Regions from separate parts of the Homo sapiens genome. Here region 1 is linked to region 2. Evidence: fine-mapped expression QTL. Tissue or cell type: whole blood. Region 2 holds a variant in brackets; the other region holds the start of a gene. Each region is shown on its reference strand, or each on the opposite one. Region 1 holds the start of MYRF (myelin regulatory factor). Region 2 overlaps SAMD3 (sterile alpha motif domain containing 3).

The links. PIP is the estimated chance that this variant, and not a neighbour inherited with it, causes the effect. A credible set is the group of variants that fine-mapping cannot tell apart.
Region 1: MYRF starts here. The variant in region 2 is the best candidate, but not a certain one, in a credible set for the expression of MYRF in whole blood (TOPMed, PIP 0.52).

What each region holds. Positions count from the first base shown.
Region 1 is chr11:61,747,101-61,756,830 of GRCh38, reverse strand. MYRF (myelin regulatory factor) reads right to left here and starts at 4,195. Exons shown (of 27, transcript NM_001127392.3): 1 at 4,041-4,195. The coding sequence starts at 4,086. It overlaps MYRF-AS1 (MYRF antisense RNA 1), which reads left to right. Exons shown (of 4, transcript NR_026882.1): 3 at 1,135-1,196; 4 at 2,386-2,802. RefSeq lists enhancers at 1-70, 71-716, 1-779, 7,083-7,944, 8,805-9,666 and silencers at 4,046-4,145, 4,266-4,405.
Region 2 is chr6:130,152,054-130,164,179 of GRCh38, reverse strand. SAMD3 (sterile alpha motif domain containing 3) reads left to right here. Exons shown (of 12, transcript NM_001017373.4): 9 at 9,155-9,355. Among named protein-coding and RNA genes, the nearest start is that of SAMD3, 65 kb to the left of the region's middle. RefSeq lists an enhancer at 10,915-11,535. The variant G/A (reference allele first, on the strand shown) is at 6,608.

The sequences.
Region 1 (9,730 bases), not on the chromosome of region 2:
AAGACCCCAAGGAGCACTCTGTCCAGCCTTCCAGTCTCAGGAGAGTCCCTGAGGCCAAAGGGTTGGTAACTGCCTGTTTCTCACCCCTGCACTGACCCCAGGCCCTCCAGAGAGGTGCTTTCTGGGGTGCGTCCCCCACCCCCGCCGCCTCTGTTCACATACCCATTGTTGTCACCATTGACCCGGAGAGCACTTCCTGCCCACCCCCCACCCCTGCCCTGCACTGGGTGCTGGGGACATGGGGATGAGTCAGACCCCCTACTACCATTTCCTCCCCTGCCTGGGCTCAGGAAACCCTGTGCCTGGCCACCCCTCCCATCTACTTACTCCCTGGGTGCACCAGGGACAGACAGAGACAGGCTGACACGGGCCACAGTGCCACCCCCATCACGAAGCCCAGCTCAGCCCCCGGATTCCTGTCCAGGTGGGAGTCCTCTCTTCCAAATCATCAGGTAGTCTCTACCTGGGACCTCCTCCTGCCCTCTGGAGGCAGAGATGTTGGTCCCTGACAGGTAGCCCCCTCAACCCCAAGGTACTGGTGGCAGAGTAGGGAGCTGGGGGCTAGGTGTCCACTCTGGCTAACTCTGGCCAACTCCCTTCTCTCTGAGCCTCAGCCAGCGCCATTCCCCTCCCCTTACCCATCCCACAGCCGGGAAGGGTGGCTTTCAAACCAGTATCCTGGTGCTTCAGGGGCTGTGAGGAGCCCAGCCCCCATTATCCACTGTATCTGTCCTATCAGGAGACTATGAGTTTGTTTGATGGTTAAAAAATCACATTGGAAGCCCCTGCTCTGGTCCAACCCACTTACTTACCCTGGGAGGGGAATGAGGCCAGAGAAGGAAGTCACCAGTCCAGCCACCCATCAGCTTCAGAAGGGGCGAAATCCCAGGCCTCCCTCCTCCAGCCCTGGTGGGGCTCCAGAGGCCGGGCAGAGGCCCACTAAACTCCAAGTGGTCTTTCCAGCACCTGCTGGAAGGCGACTTCCCTCCATCCTCCAAGGCTCCCTGCACACCCACCTGCTTTCTGGGGGACACTGGTTGCTCACTCGAGCCTCATGTGCCCCTAGAATCTAGGGCCAGCAGGCACCCCTTCCAGGCTCGGCCATTCATACTCTAACATGTCTCTCCTTCCCAGGGCTGGGCAGTGAGCTTCTTCAGAGCTGAGGTTCTTCTCTGCCACCCCCTCCTGTCTTGCAGGTGAGGAAAAAGGACTTAAAGAGGGCAAGAGCTCTTTGGGGGTTCCCTGCCAGGCACAGACGGTCACCCCACTCTCAGTGGTCCAGCCTGCACCAGAACTCTGAGGTCCTGGCAGGATTCTCAGACACTGCCCTGTCCCGTGCCTGCCCTGGCTCTGGAGTCCAAAGCCCCCTTATACCATGGCCCGGTTACCTGCTGGAAGCCAGTGCATCCTGCCCGGTGGGTCCCCTCTCTGCAGGCCCTGTGCCCGCCGATCTGGGCTGCCTTGCCTCTCTCTAGGGGATTAGCCGGGCGGTCACGGGGGCCCGGCTGTACCAGCCTCGAGGGGGCCGCTCTGTCCCGGCCTCCCACCTGAGGTCCAAAGCGCCTTAGCCCCCAGCCCACCACCGGCACAGGGCAGGACCCAGCACCTATGCTTGGTGTGTGCCCAGGGAGGGGGACCACGTCAGGTGAGGGGGCGCGCTGTGCTGCAGCCCCTTCGGTAAAACCCTTTCCCAGTCTCCCAGCCCAGAGCCGAGAGCACAGGGACTGCTACCCACTGTCCAGAGGGATGACCAAGGCCAAGTGGGGACCAGGATGAGAGCTCAGGTGTCCCCAGCCCCAGCCCCGAGTGTGACAGCACTCAAGAGTGACGCAGCCACGGCTCAAAAGCACAACTTCCCGCTCCCTCGCACTTCACACACTCACAAGCACACCAGGCCCTGCCACTCCCAGGCCTTCTCTCACACCTACAGTGGGTCCCCCACATGGGCCTTCCCCTCCCAAGTGGCCTGGAGACCCTAGGCCTCAGGGGCCACCCACACCTTCCCCCATCGCAGGGGCTGGGAGCTGTTTCCAGCCCAGCCCTCCTAGACGGGCAGCCTCACACCCCTCCCCTGCTCCCCACAGACATTCTTGAGTCTCCTCTTATCTCTCTGGAGGGAGTAGCGCAGCCTCCCCCCGCCAGGCCGCTGCATGGCTAAGCCGTGGCGTCAGCCCCCACCCCCCAACCCATGGTCAGGAGGGAGCCAGGGAGTCCAGGCCAGCCAGGCCCACCCCTCTGCTCTCTGTCAGGGCCCAGCGTCCTGGGGCAGGCAGTGTGGAGGTCAAGGGAGCCTGGCCTGCGGGTCCTCTGGGTACCTAGCAGGCTCAAGGCACTCCAGACAGTAACCCAAGCAAGCACGAATGTCTGGTCCCCTCTTCCCTGAAGGTCTCAAACCGCGTCAGGCCCCTCGAGAGCTCCTATGGATCAACAGTGTCTGGGGAGAGCCAGAGCCCCGGGACAGATGCAGGGCTGCCTAAGACCCTCAGATGGCCCACCTGATGCAGAGTCAACCATTCAATCTAGTCCAAGCCTGAACTCTTGGGTTCTGGGTCTGTGGGGTGTCCAGAATCCTGGAGTGGGATGACTGAGGCTTAGGGGTGCCCCTGCCTGGGCTGCTCAGCCAGCAGGTGTGAACAAGGGTTCCTGCCTCCCAAGTCACAGAGGGAGAGAAACTGAGGCACCGGAAGACCTGCTTCTCTCCTCCACAGGACTCCACAGGAATCTGGGGCTTGAAACTTGGGCCTTGGTTCCCTGCCCTGTAGCCCTGATAGGTTCACACATGAAGGGAAGGTTCTCAATGCACCAAGGAGCAGGATGTGGCCTTAGGGACTAGAGGGAGCTCGGGGCAGGGGCTGGGCTCGCTGCATTGGTAGACAGGGGCACAAAAGGGGGCCAGAGGGTCTGGCTAGATGTTCCAGGGAGGTTCTGAGAAGCGGAGTGGGCTGGGAGGCAGTCAGCCAGAACTTCCCCTCCCCCTCCCACTGCGGTCCCATCCCTCCAGAACCCAGCACCAGGAGGAGTGGTGGCCCTGCAGGAGGGGCAGGGGTCGTCCAGGAAAAGACAGGGAGTTGGTTAGATGGAGGAGCAGACCTCCAAAACCAATGTAGGGGTGGGGGCAGAAGAAGATATTATGGGGTGTATGTCAATTCCACCCCAGAGGGCTCCTTTCGGTCAAGTGGGGGTGAGGTCACTCTTTGAGGGGGCGAGGTCAGAGAGGCACAGCTCCAGGGTTGGGGGGACATAGTGCTGAGGAGCCTCAGAGGGCTGGTGGGATGCAGTTCACAGCACTAGAAGGGTCTCAGAGAGCAGAGGTGACCGGTGGCAGGGATGTCAGCTTCAAGAAGGTTCCAGCCCCAGGAGAGCATGCTAGGGAGGGGGGTCCCAGCCCCAAACAGGAGAGCAGTCACTAGGCAGCATTGTGGAAAGCAGGTGGCAGTCTCCAAGGGGATCCAGGCTCGAAAGTGGTCCTACCCTCATGGAAGCACAGTGGGGAGGTCCCAGCTCCTAGAAGTCATGGGGGATGGCGCCAACCAGAAGGGCACACAGGGGGTCTTGGTCTCTAGGCGGGGGTCACAGATTCTGGGAAGCAGGCTGGGGTCCAGCCTCAAGAGGTACGGAAGGTCCTAGAAGGCACACCGGGGGTCTGGGCCTTGAATGGGGTTGTATCCCGCTTGGGGTTCTGGGGAAGCAAAGTAGAGGGTCCCCAGACTCGGGAAGTTTGCTGGGGGCGAGAGTGTCACAATTTAGGGAAAGTTCCGGGTCCTGGAAGGCTCAAAGGAGTCCGGACCTGGAAGGGGACACAGTCCCAAGGAAGCTGCGAGTTGAGGAGCGGGGAGGGGGAGCCCAACTTCAGCGGCGGTGGGTGGTAACCGCTGGGGGACTCCCAGCCCCGGGAGCCTGTCTTGGCGGGCTGGTGCCAGCCTGAAGGAGGGTCCCAGCCAGAGGAGGCGGAAACACAGCGAGGAGCCCCAGTTCCCGGGGAGATCAGCCGGGGGTTCCCAGCGCCAGAGGGTCGCCGCCGCCAGCCCGCGGTCTCTCACCTTCGAAGAAGCGCTGCAGCGCCTCCGTCTCGTCCACCACCTCCATGTCCCGCCTGCCCGGCGCACACTCCAGCCGCGGCCCCGCTACAGCCCGGCCCGGGGGCGCGGCATCGCCGGCGCGGCCCGCGCGACAGTCCCGGCTGGGCTCCGGCTACGGTCCCGCCCGGTCCGCCGCCGCGCTTGCCCCCCGCGCGTCCCTGGCCCGGCCCCTGCCCGCCCCACGCGCCCCGCCCGCCGCGCCCAGCGCCCCCTGCCGGCCCGCGCCGCGCCCAGCCCGGCCGCGGGCACCACGCTCCCGACTCCTGCAGGCGGCGCTCAGCGCTGGGCAGTCCTAGGCTTGCGGGGCGCGGGGCCGTCCCGGGTCGGGGGACGCGAGACCGTCCCAGGCTTGAGGGGCGCGGGGCCTTCCCGGGTCGGGGTGGGGGCGAAGGGCCGCTTGGCCTCTGTGGGGTCGGGACTGGAAGGGTGTGCCCTCGCCGTCCTCGCCTTCGTCTTGCACGGGACAAGATGTCACGATTCCGAATCCAAACCTCAGAGACAGCCCCCATCCCTCTCGTTAGCCACCCACACACCCCGCTCAGCAACAATAACAACCTGCATTTAGGGAACGTGTGTTATGTGCCAGGCCACACAGGCATTATCTCATGTACTCCTCACAGGCACCTTATCAAGGAGATGCTGTTGTTACCTGCATTTTACAGATGGGGAAACTGAGGCTCAATGCATTAAGGACTGCCAGGAAGCCCTGTCCTGTGGCTGTGATGATGGAAATGTTCCCTGTGTTGTTCAGTATGGTAGTCACTGGCCACAAGTGAGCACTGGAAATGTGCCTATTGAGACTGAGGAACTGATTTTTTCATTTTGTTTAATTGTAATTAAACAGTTACGTGTGGCTGTGGTATTGGACAATGCAGGTCTAAAAGCTCCTTTTTTTTTTGAGATGGAGTTCGGCTCTGTCGCCCAGGCTGGAGTGCAATGGCGCGATCTCAGCTCACTGCAACATCTGCCTCCTCGGTTCAAGCGATTCTCCTGCCTCAGCCTCCCCAGTAACTGGGATTACAGGCGCCACCACGCTGGGCTAACTTGTATTTTTAGTAGAGACGGGGTTTCCTCATGTTGGCCAGGCTGGTCTCGAACTCCTGACCTTAGGTGATCAGCCCACGTTGGCCTCCCAAACTGCTGGGATTACAGGCATGAGCCACCGCTCCCCGCCCTGCCTAAGAGTTTCAAGGTCATTAAAGTTCAGAGCCAAATCCTGGCTGCCCCGGGAATCCGAACTCTCCTTTGCCGTGGCCCTGTCTGGTATAATGAAACCTGGAGGTTCTAACTCGATATAAGTCCAGGATAAAGCGGTTGTCCTTGTGCCCCTGCCTTCACCCTTATGACTGACTGCCTCCACATCTCTGTCCTGCCCAACTTGCACAGCCTCTCGTCTCACTGATATCCCCTTCAGTTCTCCCAAATCACCCTTTCTGAAACATACATCCGATCATGTCATTCCTTTGCAAAACTAAGTTTCCCTTTGCACTCAAAACAATATCTGAATGTCTTGCTCTGGTTTCTCAGGCCCCGCCTCTACCACTGGCCTCAGCTCTTCCCCTCTCTCCATTGCTCACTGAATAACAGCCACCAAGACCTCCTTGCCATTGCTCAAACATGCAAGGCCTACACCTGCCACAGGGCCTTGGCACATGCTATTCCATCTGTTTACAATGCTTGTCTCCACATGGCTACTTCTTTGTAGCAGTTGGTCTCAGCTCAAATGTCATGTCCCCAACCAGCCTACCTAAAGCAGTTCTCCCTACCTAGGCCTTTCTTGCTCACCATGTAAAAGATTCCTATTTAGTTTCTGTTATTATCCTTCTTGCTCTAGAATGGAAGCCCTACGAGGGCAAGATATTTTTCTGTATCGGTCACTGCTATAGCTTCAACACCAAGAACATGACCTGGCACACAGTAGGTGCTCAATAAATGTGTTGAATGAATGTATGGTGGCATCTTCAAACTACCGAATCCAGTCAGGCTCCAGTGGCTCACACCTGTAATCCCAGCACTTTGGGAGGTTGAGGCAGGAGGATTGCTTGAGGCCAGGAGTTCGAGACCAGCCTGGGCAACATGGCAAGACCCTGTCTCTACAAAAAATTAAAAAATTAACTAGGCACGGTGGCACATGCCTGTGATCCCAGCTACTGGGGAGGCTGAGGAAGGAGAATCGCTTGAGCCCAGGAGGTTGAGGCTGCAGTGAGGCTGCAGTGAGCCATGTTTGCACCACTGCACTCCAGCCTGGGCGACAGAGCAAAACCCTGTCTCCAAACACAAACAAACAAACAAACAAAAATCTACAGAATCCTGGACCTCTGAAACCTTGGGAGCGGATAATTCTGGAATCCCAGACCTAGAGAATCATCCCGCTTCAGAGTGGCTCAACTTGAAGCCTCTCGGGACCCTTCAAGGCAGCACGTAAAAGCTGGAAAAACCTACCCCACCCAACCACTGTTTGACAAGCCACTAAACAGAGGCCAGAGGTGTGGGGGACTGCTGGCAGATCAAGATGCCAACGTAGCCAGCTTCGGACTCTCACCTCTGCCTTGCAGCATCCCCAGGGAGGGTGGGGCACAAGCCAGGCCACCCCGTGGGGATGGGGTGAGAGGCCTGGAAGCCGCTCCCACCCCAGCCTCCCTGTCAGTTCTCAGTGGCCAGCCGTGGGGGAGGGGCAGCCAATGCCTGAGCCCCAGATGTGGCCCAGTCAGCAGGCCCATGGTGGCCCGCCGAAAAGGGTCAATGCCACGACAGTTCTGGGGTTGGGGGAGGGGGTGCTGAGGCCGGCGGGTGCCTCACAATGAGGTTTTGTCCCTCTGGGGGCCGCTCTCAGAGCTGTTGCTCTTAGATATATAGAATGGGATTTTGCTGGAGGCCCCAGCTGTGTGTGCTGACCGCAGCTCCCTCACCGCCCCCGCAGGGGCTGGGCTGAGAGGGGGGAGAGGGGCCACACTGAGACTCCTATTCTTTTCCAGCTGATACACCCCAGAGGTTTTTCTCCCTCCGCAGACTCCCTTAAGACAATTGTTATTCTCCACCCTGCCCCTCCTCCACCCGGGGTCAGGCCTGCCTGCGGACAAAGTAGACACCCGCCTACACCACGCGATTCTGAGAAACGGATTTACATTACGAGTCGCCTGGGACCAGCCACAGAACCAGCTTCTCTACAAGCCTCCACATACCCACGGATCTTTCCTCCGTATCCCACATACTGCATAACTGACCATCATCTAAGTTCTCACCACCATCCGTTGAGCTACACATTGTCCCTGTCCTGGTCAGCAAGGGCTGGAGGTAGAAGGGAAGACTCGTACTTTGTCCCTAACGCCCCAACTCCATTGCATTATAATCAATTAAGAGTATAGATTATTCAATCTCTAGGGTAGCCTTGAAGTTGGAAGGGGTGGAATGGAGCCTCCTGTTAACCCTGTAGCAGCTGACCTGGCTAAGGGAGCTCAGGCCCTGCCATCTCCCCTGTTACACTAGGTCACTGAGCAAAGGAGCAACTGTCCCCAGGGATTTTCATCTCTGGACTGGAGGAAAGAGGTGGCTGAAATGTCCCAGACTCAAGGGCTCAGCCAAGAGTTGAGGCTGCCATCTGCCAACTCCATAATGAAGTTGGGTCCCAAGCAGCGCTGGGGCAGAGGCTGGGGCAGGAAGGTGGCTGGGCCGGTGAAAGTAGCCCAGGGGACTTGCATACAAGGACCTAGGGGGGCCCATCAATGGAGATGAGTCCTCATCTGTGCCCCTGGCTTCTCTACCGAGCCACAGTGAGTGAGGGGCTGAGATTTCAGCCCTAGCCCAGCAGACATGGCTGTCCCCTGTAGCCAGCTCCACCTAGTCCCCAAGGCCTGCCCTCTGTCCTCAGAGGCCTCATCTATAAAGCACACTCAGTATCCCTGCCTTACAGTGGAGGTAAAGTGCCAGGTCAGTGATCAGTAAATGGTGCCCTCTCCAGTTCCAATCAGCTCTCAGCACCCATCACTGTCCCTTGAGTGGGAGCAGGGCCAGGAGGAGGTGGTAGACCGAAGGCAGCACTGGGGAGAGGGATGCTGGCACCTGAGGGTTAATGGGTAATGGGCGTAGAGGCCAGCCCAGGAGAAGGTACAGCCCTGTCCTCCCCACCGTGGGACTCTCCTGGCCTCCTGTGGACCCACACAGCACTGGCATCAGGCCATTTCGCAGAGGAAGAGGAGGGCTCAAAGTGGGGTGAGTGTCAATCCAGCAAGCCAGTGAGGCTGGTGGTCCAGCTTCCCCGGACTAGGGCCCAAGGGCACACCTGAGTGTGGGGTCCTGCAGGGTAGACCCCTTCCTGACTGCAGGGGCACCGGGACAGGAGGGGGCTGCTGCAGGTATTGAGTGGAGCGTGAGGCAGAGTGCCTCTCTAGCCCTTCCCAGCACTGCCCTCTCAAGACCCTCCCCAATGCCACACCCTGGCTGCAGCCCCGGGCAAGCCACAGAGCCTCCCTGGCCTTCAGTTTCTTCTGCCTGTGCTGTGCTCACTGGACAGGATAATTTGCAGACCATTGAGACCACTGAGGGCAAAGAACCTCTGAAAGCCATCAGGTGTGGTGGAGGCCAGAGTCCTAGGCTGAGAGGCCCTGATTCTGGTCCCCAGTCTGTCCCCACCTCCCATGCGACCTTGGGCAGGTCTTCACCCTTGTTTGGCCCGTTTCTGCTTCTGTTCAGTGGCTGTGGGTGAAGACAGGCTCTAAGGCTGGGGGCATTCTTCTATCACTCTCCCCAGCCCCTCACCAAATAGAGCCACTGGACACTGGGGGCCGAGATGGGGGCAGGGTCAGGGGAAGGGAAAGGTCCGGTCAGCTTGGCTGGGTCAGTGCCGAGGCCAGACTCTGCGGCCAAGGCGGGACTGACTGGCTGAACAGCGCCACCTGCTGTGTAGAGGGGGCAGGCCCCACCACCTGGGCCTTCCAGCCACTCCCTAGGCCTCACTGCCCGGAAGCTATGCTGGCCTGGGGTTCCTGGGCTGCACTGGGTCTGGCCAGGTATTTTGCGCCCTCTCAGGAAAGCCCTCAGCAAAGACTTCTAGTGGCCCCTGCATTTCAGTGCTGTCCCACTGGGATCTTCCACCCCTGCCTGCCCTAGCTGTCTGCATTGTTGGGGAGGGAGGTGGGCATGGTCAGACTAGCCTGGTCCCCCAGTCGCCAGCTTGGCAGTCTTGGGCAGCTAATCCTCTCAGACCCCTCAGGGAGGAAGGGGAGGCCAGCAAGCTGTATCTTTCCAGGCTGTAGTATGAACGTGCACCCGCTGGTACATCTCTCACACAGGCAGGACTCCGCAAGTGGCTGCCCTCATTCACAGGGGGCTTCAAGGGTCTTCTACTCCCTCCCTGCAACTCAAAGTGTGGCCCCGGGCCAGGGCACTAGCCGAGCAGGAGCAGGTAAGAAATCTATACCTGGGCCCCACCCCGGACCACTAAACCCGCACCTGCATTTAGCAAGCGCCCCAGTGAGTCATGAGCACCGTGAACTTTGAGAAACGAAGTTCTAACCCAATACAGACAAAGGGCTGGACCTGAACCACCCAAACACACCCTGCGTCTTGTGGGTGAAACGGGCTCTGGTCCCAAGGAATCTGTTTCCCCCTTAGGCTTTCTGTTCCATCCAGGGAACAGTGGCAGAGGCCCCCCC
Region 2 (12,126 bases):
GCATTCTGATGTGAAATATTCTATCAAATATATACTGGAACAACATGGCAATTTCTTTAGAGAGGTTAACTTGTGCCTCTTTTTTTTTTTTTTTCAACCTACTTTATGTGTAGGATACTGATGCATGGATTTGATAAATGCTTTTAGGATGTTCTTGTATTCCAAAGCCTTCCACATAAACTACCAGGTGTTAAATTATTAACACTATACCTATAATTCATTTCTCTCTTAAAACATTTTCTTTTCCTACTTATTGGGTACATATATACCCTATAGCTTTGAAAGCTATGAAATAGCTTTGTGTGTTAGATTTATTTGGCTTGGAAATAAAATAGAATTAAAGTTGCACAAAAACTACCTAGTGAGTCAAATGTTAAGAATATTTACTAAGTTTCTTTGGATTTATCTTACAACACTTACTGTTGGTTTTTTACTAGGCCTGACACATAATGATTTATTGCATAAATACTAATTATTTTATAGCCTTTTCCACAGATGTTTCTCTCATGATAGAAAATTGAACAAGACAGCAAAAGTTGAAGACAAATCTTGACAGTTAATTTCATTCTACATAGAGTGCAATTACTGTCATTAGCAGGTGGCATATTTACTAATACTGCGAAGTTTTACAAGTAAGCTGCACACTTGGAAACATGGGGCAAGGTTGCATGGGTGAAACTCTGCCTGCTGATTGACTGAGACACATGCCTGAATGCTAAGCTAAGCTACTGTTCAAGTTCCATAGGGGGTACATCATTTCCAAGTCAACACTTGACGACAATAGAATTGGAAATGAGGATGACTGGGATTTGGTATGAGGAAACACCTAGTATCTAACACAACACTGTCCAATAGAAATATAATATGTGCTGCATATGTAGTTTTTAATTTTCTAGTAGCAGAAATTTTTAAAAAGTGGCAAATGGAATTAACGTTAATAGTATATTTAACTCACTATATGCAAAATATTATTTCAACATGTAATCATTCTTAAAAATTTTTAATGAGATATTTTACATTCTTTTTTTTTGCATACTAAATAGTTGAAATACAGTGTTTGCACTTACATTTCAATTTGGGCTATCTCTGGGGGAAAAAGAAAAGCCAGGTTCAGTGGCACATGCCTGTAGTCCCAGCTACTTGGGAGGCAAATGCAGGAGGACTGCTTGAGCCCAGGAGTTAGAATCCAGCTGGGCAATATAGCAAAACCCACTCTTCTATTAAAAAATAATAAAAATGACAATTAAATTTGTTAAAAATTAGAAATATCAATTTGGGCTAGTCACATTTCACGTGCTCAGAAGCCACATGTGGCTAGTGGCTACCATACTGGACAGCTCAGACAAATACACCCCTTGGGTAATTAGAGAATAAGTGAGATGACAATTTGCAGAGAACACTATAGTTAGCCAGGAGTATGTCCAGTTACTTGCTGGTGATGTTCAGAAGCTACAGTCCACAATCTTAGGTATGAAACCTTTATTTACATAGTGCCTTTAAAGTAGATTTTTCATAGGGTATTTATAAGAATTATTCAGGGACCAGATGCAGTGACTCATGCCTGTAACCCCAGCACTTTGGGAGCTGAAATGGGAGAAAGCCTTGAGCCCAGGAGTTCACGACAAGCTTGGGCAACATGGCAAGATACCGTTTTCTTAAAAAAATTTTTTTAAAGAGAATTATTCCATTTTCATAACAAGATACTCTCTTTGTAAACTTTTTCAGATTGTGGAATATAGAACAAAGTTATCTTTATAAAAGTCAAGATGAGTTTTTATTCATTTCTGGGAGATAAAAAAGCTATAACTACATTTTTAACCATGCCGTCTTACTACTTCAAAAGCAGACTCATTCTTCTGTTGAAATCAAACTTAGAAATATTCTCCTCCTTATTTCTGCTCCAGCTGTCAGCTTAAACTAAAAGTTGGCTAGAACTATGCTCTGCTATTACAACCAACTCTGTGAGAGCTTAGGTTACTGTGGTGTTGGAGTAGAGAGACCACACTCTATGTTGCCAAAACTGGTGTGGTAAAGGAAGCATAGCATACGCTCTTTATACAATTTGTTTGGCTTTAACTCAAGTTAATGTTCTGGTTAATTTACGCTGATTCCTCTAAAGTCACACATCTCAAAGGTGAGTCCTACACTTCCCTTCAGTGTATTTCTTGGCCTGAAGTGATCTCTTTCGTGCTTCATGTCTACTTTCTTTGATTCCTCCTTGAGCACGGCCCTCCATTAACTTTGTCTGCTGAGACAGACATCTTGAAGTCAACAGTCAGCAGCTGTTTCCAGCTGCTGTTCTGTAAGATTCAGACATTTCTTACTCACTAGTTGCCTCATTTCAACGTGCACTGTTAAAGAAATCAGCCTGTTAGAGAAGTGAGGAAATACCCTAAAAGAAACCTGCACACCTGAGCATCTCTGTGCTTGGAAAAGTCACTTCCCCTTTGAGGGTCTCAATTTGCCCATCAGTAAAGTGTGAGGCATGGACTAGGTGGTTTCTAAGTTCTTTCCAGCTTTAATAATATATAAATCATTAACAGTATATCTAACAATATATAAATCTAACAATATGTAAATCATTAAAATGGTGAGAATTTTAAATTCTGATGTAGCTTTTTAATAATTAGGAAAATCACTTCAGTCTAGAATACAACCCACCAACACTGTGTTAATCCCATCAGTCTGATCAGGTGGAAGTTATCTAGAAACTTTATTTTCATGATTGGGTAAGAGTTTTGGAGGAAGTAGTACATTATAAATACAGTAATATCTAAATGTCAATATCAGCAATTATATAACTTCTACTATATTTCAGTAGATGAAAGAAAGCCATTTAGATAATTAAAACATTTTTTCTGTACTTTAAAAAATTAAAATGTTTTCTTACTTAAGAAATTGTCATTCTATGCATTTGAGACATACAGAAGAAAAACTACATACGTAACATATATGTAGTTTATGAGACAAAATAAACACTGTTAACTCAGCATTTAACTTTAGAACTAGAACACTGCCTGCACCATTGTGTGTGCCTGAGTTTTCCTCCCCTCTCCTGTCACCTGCCTTTCCAACACCACAGGCCTCTAGAACTAATCACTATTCTGAATTTTATGTTTATCATTCACCTGTTTTAAAAATAAATGACATTGTCACATATGCATGAATTCTTAAGGGATATATTGCTTAGTTTTGCTTGTTTTTTTTTCAAGCACATATTTTATTTGAATAAATCCTCTGTAGTCCATTTTTATGTTCAACAGTTTAAAACATATACAAACAAAGCTTGAAAGTAAATGAAGATCTGACATATCTGAAGCTTAAAGATTTTTATTTTTCTTTTCACCACCTTCCACATTTTACATTTGAAACTCCTTGGCTTCGTTGACAATCCATTATCCTGGTTCTCCTGCTCCTATAATTTTCTCCCTTTCTATATATCTAAATCTAGATAATTTAAAAGAAATATCAAATCTCTATCTCTGCATTCACAAGTTTCCTAGCTATTCTTCCAACCTCAATTAAAAGATTTCATCGCCTTTAAGTCCCAGCTTTAAACCCTGGCCGTCTATGGTTTTCCACAATCTTCAGATTTGCTCTGCTAAACATTCCCGTAACATGCTCTGCCCTTCCTGTCTCTCCACCCAGAACTGTCCTTTCTTCTTTCAAATTCTATTATCCCTTAAAATCTGATCAGTTCCTCATCTTCCACGAATTTTCCTTCACTACCCCAGCCTAAAACAAATTCTAGTTTTGCTTGTTTTTAAGGTTTACAAAATGATATGAAAACTATATGTTGGCTTTGATAAGTTCCTTTTTTTCAATCAATGTAATGTCACTGGAATTCATCCAGGTTGTTCAGTTGAGTGTAGTTTATTCGTTTTCCTGTTGGTTTAATCTATTGTGACAGGCAACCAGTTTATTTGGCTCTTCTCTTCTTAACGGATATTTGATTTGTTTCCAGTGTTGGCTGTTATGAACTATGCTGCTGTGATTATTCTTGTATGTGTGTCTTGAAGCATATGTGAAGATTTTTTTCAAGGATTTATACTTAGGAGTGGATTTGCTGGCTCACTGGCTCACAGGGTGTGCAGATATTCAACTCTGTAAGACAGTGCCAAATTATTTTCCTGGATGATTAAGCTCCCTGAGCAGCACTCGTTAATCATCTGATTTCTTTTCCACTCACCCCACCCCCATGCAATGCCACCACCCCACTTCCAATCTATTGGGAATACAATGGTACTGTGTTTGGCTTCCATTTTAGTTATGTATGAGGGTGATCATCTTTTCATATGTTTATGAAATATTCATGTTTCCTCCTCTGTAAAGTGTCTGTTCATGTCTTTTGCTTATTTTTCTATGAGGCTGCCTTTTTTTCAATTTACTTGTAAAAATCCTTTGTATATTCTGTATTCTACTCCTTTACTAATTATATTTGTTCCCAATATCTTCTCACAGTTTGTGCCTTGCCTTTTAAATTTCTTTCTGGTGTCTTTTGACAAGGAAAGACAAGGTTGCAATTTTAATGTAGTTAGAGTTATCAATCATTTGTCTTATGATCAGTGCTTCTGAGGCAGGAGAATAGGGTCTGAAGGCAGGAAGCCTAAGGCCAATTTGCACCAACTTCCTCGAACTGAATCAAAAGGAAAACCCCAACTTTTCATGCCCAGGTAACAAAAGGACCAGAGGCTACTCCCTTTGCAATCTCCCACCCGCCTCTGTGTGGCAGATGAAAAATGGAAAGTACCTCTGTATTAGTCTGTTTTCACACTGCTGATAAAGACATACCTGAGACCGGGCAATTTACAAAATAAAGAGGCTTATTGAACTTACAGTTACACATGACTGGGGAGGCCTCACAATTATGTCAGAAGGCAAGGAGGAGAAAGTCACATCTTCTGTGGATGGCAACAGGCAAACAGAGAGCTTGTGCAGAGAAACTCCCGTTTTTAAAACCATTGGATCTTGTGAGACCCATTCACTACCATGAGAACAGCATGAGAAAGACTTGCCCCCATGATTCAATCATCTCCCAACTGGTCCTTCCCACAACAGGTGGGAATTATGGGAGCTACAAGATGAGATTTGGGTGGGGACACAGAGCCAAACCATATCAACCTCTGATTGGTCCCCTCTTGCAACCAGTCAGACTGGTAGCAGGCCTAGTCTTCATTTGCATTGGGATATAACTTTGTTACTTCACTACTTCACTTCAGCCTCTGGTCCCTTCCCACAACCAATCAGACATTTGCATAGAGTGTAATTTTGTAACTTCAGCCACTGATTGGTCACCTTCCACAACCAATCAGACTGGTCGTGGGCCTCTCCTGTATTTACATAGGGTGTAAACCGAGTCACCAGTGGGAAACCACTAGAGGCTATTTAAAACCCAGAAAATTCTCTTGAGCAGCCAGCTTGAGCCCGCTCCCACTCTGTGGAGTATACTTTTGTTTCAATAAATCTGATTTTTGTTGCTTCTTTATTTCATGGCTTTGTTGTGCATTTCTTCCAATTCTTTGTTCAAAACGCCAAGAACCTGGACAACTTGTAGTCAAGGCCCTCCACTGGTAACACTTTTAGGAAATCCTTTCTTACCTTGAAGTGATAAGAAATATTTCTATATTTTCTTTAAATTTTTTTAAGTTTTTGCTCTTAAAATTTAACTTCTTAAGCCATATGGGATTTTTTTTTTCCTTATGGATAGAAAATTTTCTTGCACCTTTCAGAAAATAGTCATTCTCTTCCTCAGATTCGTGATGCCATCTCTGTTGTTTCCATGGCTCTGTGTCTAGAAGCTCTGCTGTTTTCCGCTAGTAAAGTCATCTATCCCTGCATCAATACCAACTTCCTTACTTACATAGCTGTAAAATGTCTTGATACTTTCCCATCACTGCTTTATTATTCTTTAAGAATGCCTTGGTCATTCTTGAGGTTTTTAATCTTTCAAATGAGTTTTAGAATCAGCTAGTCAAGTTCTGATAAAAAAAATTGTGGTTTTTGATAGGTTTGGGATTTTGACAGAAATATTGAATCAGCAGCTCTACTTGGAGAAAGATGACTTTCTTACAATATTGAATCTTGCTAGCTGTGAACATAATAGGCTATCCATTTATTTAAGTCTCATTAATATTTTATAGTTTCATAATTTTCTTAAAAGTCTTCCACATTTTTTGTTAGTTTTATTCCTAGGTATCTTATAAGGTTTTTTTTGCAATTTAATTTTTTTTTTTTGCAAAATATAATTGTAAAAAATTGTATTTTCTATGTTAGCGTATGTTAGAATATTTATCTTGTATTCAGTTGCTCTGAAAAACTCAGCTGTAACAAATTACATATGCATGATTTTAAGTTTTCTCTTGAACAATCACATCATCTATGAATATTGACAATTTCGTTTCTATCTTTTCAATTTTTATACCTTTTATTTTCCTGTCTTACTACTCTGACTAGAATTTCAGTATAGGCTGAGTAAGAGTTTAATAAAGCACCTTTGTGTTGCTTCTGATTTTAAAGATTATTCTTTTAAAATTTCACCATTAAAAATCATATCTGTCAGGCGTGGTGGCTCATGCCTGTAATCCCAACAATTTGGGAGGCCAAGGTA[G/A]CAGATCACTTAAGCCCAGGGGTTCAAGACCAGCCTGGGCAACATGGCAAGACCTGTCTCTACAAAAAATACAAAAATTAACCAGATGTGGTGGCATGGCCCTGTAGGCCCATCTGTTGGGACAGTTGATCACTTGTGCCTGGAAGTTTGAGGCTGCACTGAGCTGTGATCACGCCACTGCACTTCAGCCTGGGTGACAGAGTGAGACCTTGTCTCAAAAAAAAAAAATATGTTAGCTCTAGGTTTTTGGTATATAACTTTATAGGTTTTGAAAATTTCTCTTATTTTGACAAAAGTTTTTTTCTTTAATCATAGAGGGATATTATAAGATACTTTTTCTGCGTTATTTGAAATGGTCATGTTTTTTCATCTTTAATTAGTTAATTAATGCAGTATATGACGTTTACACATGTTTAGATAATCCAAGTAAAATTATGGAACTGTTGTAATTTTATTATTTATTTATTTATTTATTTATTTATTTATTTATTTATTTATTTTTTGAGACGGAGTCTCACTCTGTTGCCTAGGCTGGAGCACAGTGGCACCATCTTGGCTCACCACAACCTCTGTCCCCCAGGTTCAAACGATTCTCCTGTCTCAGTCCCCCGGGTAGCTGGGATTACAGGAATGTGCCACCACACCTGGCTACTTTTTTGTATTTTTAGTAGAGACAGGGTTTCACCATGTTAGCCAGGCTGGTCTCAAACTCCTGACCTAAGGTGATCCACCCGCCTCGGCCTCCCAACATTTATTATTGTTTTTGTAGAGATAGAGCCTTGCTATGTTGCCCTGGCTTCTCTCAAACTCCTGGCCTCAAGTAACCCTCAGCCTCAGCCTCCCAAAGTATTGGGATTACTGGGTGTGAGCTGCTGTGCCCAACAATCATACTGTTCATACACCACGTTTCTCAAAACCTACCTCTTTTCTGCCCCGAATCTTTCTATAACAGTGGCCCCCAAACTGAGATTTTAGTATGATAGTATGTGAAACGTAATGGGTAAATCAATCATGTTTTCTTTTAATTTGCTATAGTTCCCTTACCAATGTCAAACTACCCTTGAGTTTCTGAGGTATAATAAATTCAAGTTAGTTGTTCCTTGTTTCTAATATCTGCAACTTTGTTCATGAACGAGAGTGACTGCACTTTTCCTTTCTTACACTGTTCTTTCAGGTTTGGGGATCAGTGTCATAGAGGCTTCAAAGGATGGGTTAGAGAGTATTCCTTTTTTTTCTTTTCTTTTTTTTTGAGACAGTCTTGCTCTGTCTCCCAGGTTGCAGTGCAGTGGTGTGATCTCGGCTCTGCTTCCCGGTTCAAGCAATTCTCATGCCTCAGCCTCCCAAGTAGCTGGGATTACAGGTGCATGCTACTGTGTCGGCTAATTTTTGTATTTTTAGTAGAGGTGGGGTTTCGCTATGTTGGCTAGGCTGGTCTTGAACTCCTGGCTTTAGGTGATCCTCCTGACTCGTCCTTCCAAAGTGCTGGGATTACAGGTGTGAGCCACCATGCCTGGCCTCCTTTCCTTTTTCTTGAAAAATTTTGCATAAATTTGAACACTCTGTTTCAAAAGTTAAGTAGATTTTGTCTGTAAAACCCTCAAGTCTTTCTTGGTATTTTCTTTGTGGAAAGACTTTTATCTTCCAACTAAATTTGTATAAGATTATAGGAACTTCTTCTTAATTTTGATAATTTTATTTTTCTAGGCGTTCCTTCACTTGGTTTAGGTCTTGTTAGTCATTCTGTGTTCACAGAAAGTAGATCTACTGAGGCTTTCCTATGTGCTTGTAAAAGCCTTGATATAAGAGGATTGTAGATTCCTTATCACCTTTTTCGTCTTTTATAGGTATCATCTGTTCACATTCTGGTCAGCTAGACAGTTGATCAACTTTGATTTGCATGCAGTTCAGCTGACTGTCCTCTTAACTCATATTTCTAGAAAGATATTTTTCTTATTTCCTCAAAGCTGATTGTCTTAGATTTTCAACAAGAATAAGTGAGGTGTTTCTTAGCTGCCCCCACTCCGCCCAACGTACCCAGTTGTATAGTGAATAAAATTATTAGTTTAATGATTTAGCATCAGAAAATAACCACTGTTATTATTTTGAATTTGGATTATATGGCATGGTACTGCAGCTATAAAAAGGCATTTAAAAAGAAAAAAGATAATAGTAATAACAAAACCTTAATACTTTTAAAAATATCTTCTTAACATTTTATCTTCTAAAATTGAAATGCATAGAAATGAGCAACATTTGATTCAGTGGGAACCTTCTGGATAATCTGTCTCTATATAAAAGGATAACGTAGGAATTAAAGTAACTCTTTTAGATCTTTCAAGAGAATAGATTATAATTCCATGATAAGTAATTAACTATCTAATTTATTGTCATTAAAGACTGTCCATTTATTAGTTATGCTCAATGTCAAGTGTAACCAGGTATGGTGATACTCACCTTAGGAATGAGTTAAGAGTGTGCAATAACAGCCTGAAATTCAAGTTTTTATAGAAACATGGAATCCATTGATATGTTGAAAATGTTTTGCAGGAAGAAGCTGTTTGTTTTGATTCTGAGCTAGATGAACATATTAAGTGGTTCCAGCAAGAATACGTGAAAACAGAAAAGGACTGGAGAGAAATTGACAAGAGAATGAGCCAAACTTTGGAAATAAGAAGAAAGATGATTGGCAGCCGAACACCTCTGAAGGACATTCTTAAACTGTTTCCTTTCTTGAAGTGCCCTTATCAGGTATCTTTATTCTATATATATATACACACACATATATATGTATATACACACACACACATATTTTAATATTATATATACATACATATATATATATATATATATATATTTTTTTTTTTTTTTTTTTTTTTTCAGACAGAGTCTTGCTCTGTCGCCCAGGCTGGAGTGCAATGGCCTGCGATCTCAGCTCACTGCAACCTCTGCCTCCCAGGTTCAAGCGAATCTCCTGCCTCAGCCTCCTGAGTAGCTGGGACTACAAGTGTGTGCCACCATGCCCAACTAGTTTTTGTATTTTCAGTAGAGATGGGGTTTCACCATCTTGACCAGGTTGGTCTTGAACTCCTGACCTCAGGTGATCTGCCTGCCTTAGCCTCTCAAAGTGCTGGGATTACAGTGTCCAAATGGATTTTTCCCTCTTTCCTCTTGGAGTGGTAACAGGACAACATAGCAAGACAGTGGGGGTGAATCTCAGTGGGGTGTGAGGCCCAAAGGCTGCAACTAGAGCCATTTGATAGGAATTTCAGGAAGCAGACCCTCCCCACCCACCCTCTTTCCTAACCATGAAAAAGGAAAAATTAAAAAAAAAAAAAAAGAATTTCAGTAGCATATTCAGATAATAGGCACCAGCTGCCTTCAGAACTAAAGAGTTCTCTGTCATTGGACATATTGTGGAGGGTGGCGGATCATCACTTAGGGGTATTTTGACAGTGTGAATCATTATTCCCTTTCATGCTTTTATGTAATCAAGGTAGTTTATTAAGGAACTGTTATTATGCATCCTTAGTAAAAATACGTTTCCTTTATGATCCCAAATAATTTCATAAGTGTCCTTAAATATATATGAAATTTAGGGCCAGGCATGGTGGCTCATGCCTGTAATCCCAGCACTTTGGGAGGCTGAGGTGGGTGGATTGCTTGAGCCCAGGAGTTCAAGACCCGCCTCAGCAACCTGGTAAAACCCCATCTCTACTAAAAGTACAAAAATTACCCCAGCTTAGTGGTGCGTGCCTGTAGTCCCAACTATTCTGGGAGGCTAAGGCACGAGGATCACCTAAACCTGGGGAGGTCAAGGCTGCAGTGAGCCATGACTGAGCCACTGTACTGCAGCTTGGTGACACAGTGAGACCCTGTCTCAAATTTTAAAAAATAAATAAATAAATAAATATATATATATATATATGAAATTTAATGGGTAAATCAATCAAATACCCTTCCATTTAGTTCACTTAGAGTGGCCATTCAAGGTTCTTTCACAATTTTAGTGTAATTTTTGGTGGTGGTATATAATGAAAGATCATCAAAGGTTTTACCCGAGAACATATTTCATGGAGAAATTCTATGTATTCAATTAACCAAATTAAACATGAAACATCTACATATTTTTCTTCTGAGCAAAGGGAAATAAGAATTGCCTGTATTATTTTAATAGAAACATAAGTAGCAAATATCTGAATGCTTCTCTGTAACAGCATGTTCTCAGTGCTTTCCACGGATTAATCTACCTAATCCTCTCAGCAACCATACTGTGGCTTTCGCTTGTTTCCCCTTAATCTTCAGGTTGTAAGGAACTGTAATAGCCAGTCATCTCTGGCTGTTAGAAAAGTATGCCAAATGGACACATCTGCAAAATACAGTTTTAAAGCAAAAGCCTGTCAAACTTACGGTCTATACACTCCTTACATGTAGGGAGCACGTGTTAATATTAACAGTTCCCAAAGTGCCTAGCAGAGCACCACGTGTGACACAGCAATGTAATCTTGATTTTGTGAATGCTGAGTGAATTAGTGGAGGTTGGTAAGGCTGTTGTGATCACTAATGTCGTAGCCTTAGGGGTCTTCATTGGAGTGTGGCCTACAAAGGCTTAGTGATGAATATAAATGGACTATGTTAAGCAGCTTTTCAAAGAACCATTGGTGACAGTAAGGTGGAGGTCTGTCATAGCTTATGTGAGGAGCAGAGAGATTTCAGACCTGATGCTGTCCCCTGTGCTTTTGTCCAGGCCTCCTGCTGTGGCATAGGTGTATCTTCCGCACCATTCCTCAAGTATTTCACCCTTTATATCCAAAATATGGAGTATGGTTTTTGTAATGACTGTACTTATTGAATAGAGTTGCCTGTTGATTGTTTTATTTATTTATTTATTTATTTATTGAGACAGAGTCTTACTTTGTCGCCCAGGCTGGAGTGCAGTGGCACAATCTTGGCTCACTGCAGCCTCTGCCTCCCAGGTTCAAGTGATTTTCCTGCCTCAGCCTCCCAAGTAGCTGGGACTACGGATGCACGCCACCACGCCTGGCTAATTTTTATATTTTTAGTAGAGATGGGGTTTCACCATGTTGGTCAGGCTGGTCTTGAACTCCTGAGCTCAGGTGATCCACCTGCCTCAGCCTCCCAAAGTGCTGGGATTACAGCTGTGAGCCACCGTGCCCGACCTGATTGTTTTAGACAAAAGAACGAATCATTTTCGGTTTTTCCAGGAAGTACCTCCCTGACTCAGCCCTAGGCAGCTGGGATTTCCAATTTATAAAACTCTTGTGTGCCTCCTAAAATAAAAGCAAGTTTGACCTCGCAAATACCTAGTTAACAAATGATCCCGTAAGAGGACAGTTGTCCCTGCACCAAACCACCCCCACCGCCTGTTGCTCCTGCCATTGTGAAAACACTGAGTGCTTAGGGAGCTGGTGGAGACAGGGTGGCAGAACAGCAGCAGCCGGGGTGGGCGGTGGTCCTGGCTGTTAACACTGACCCCCCATCACCTCCATGCTCATTAACCT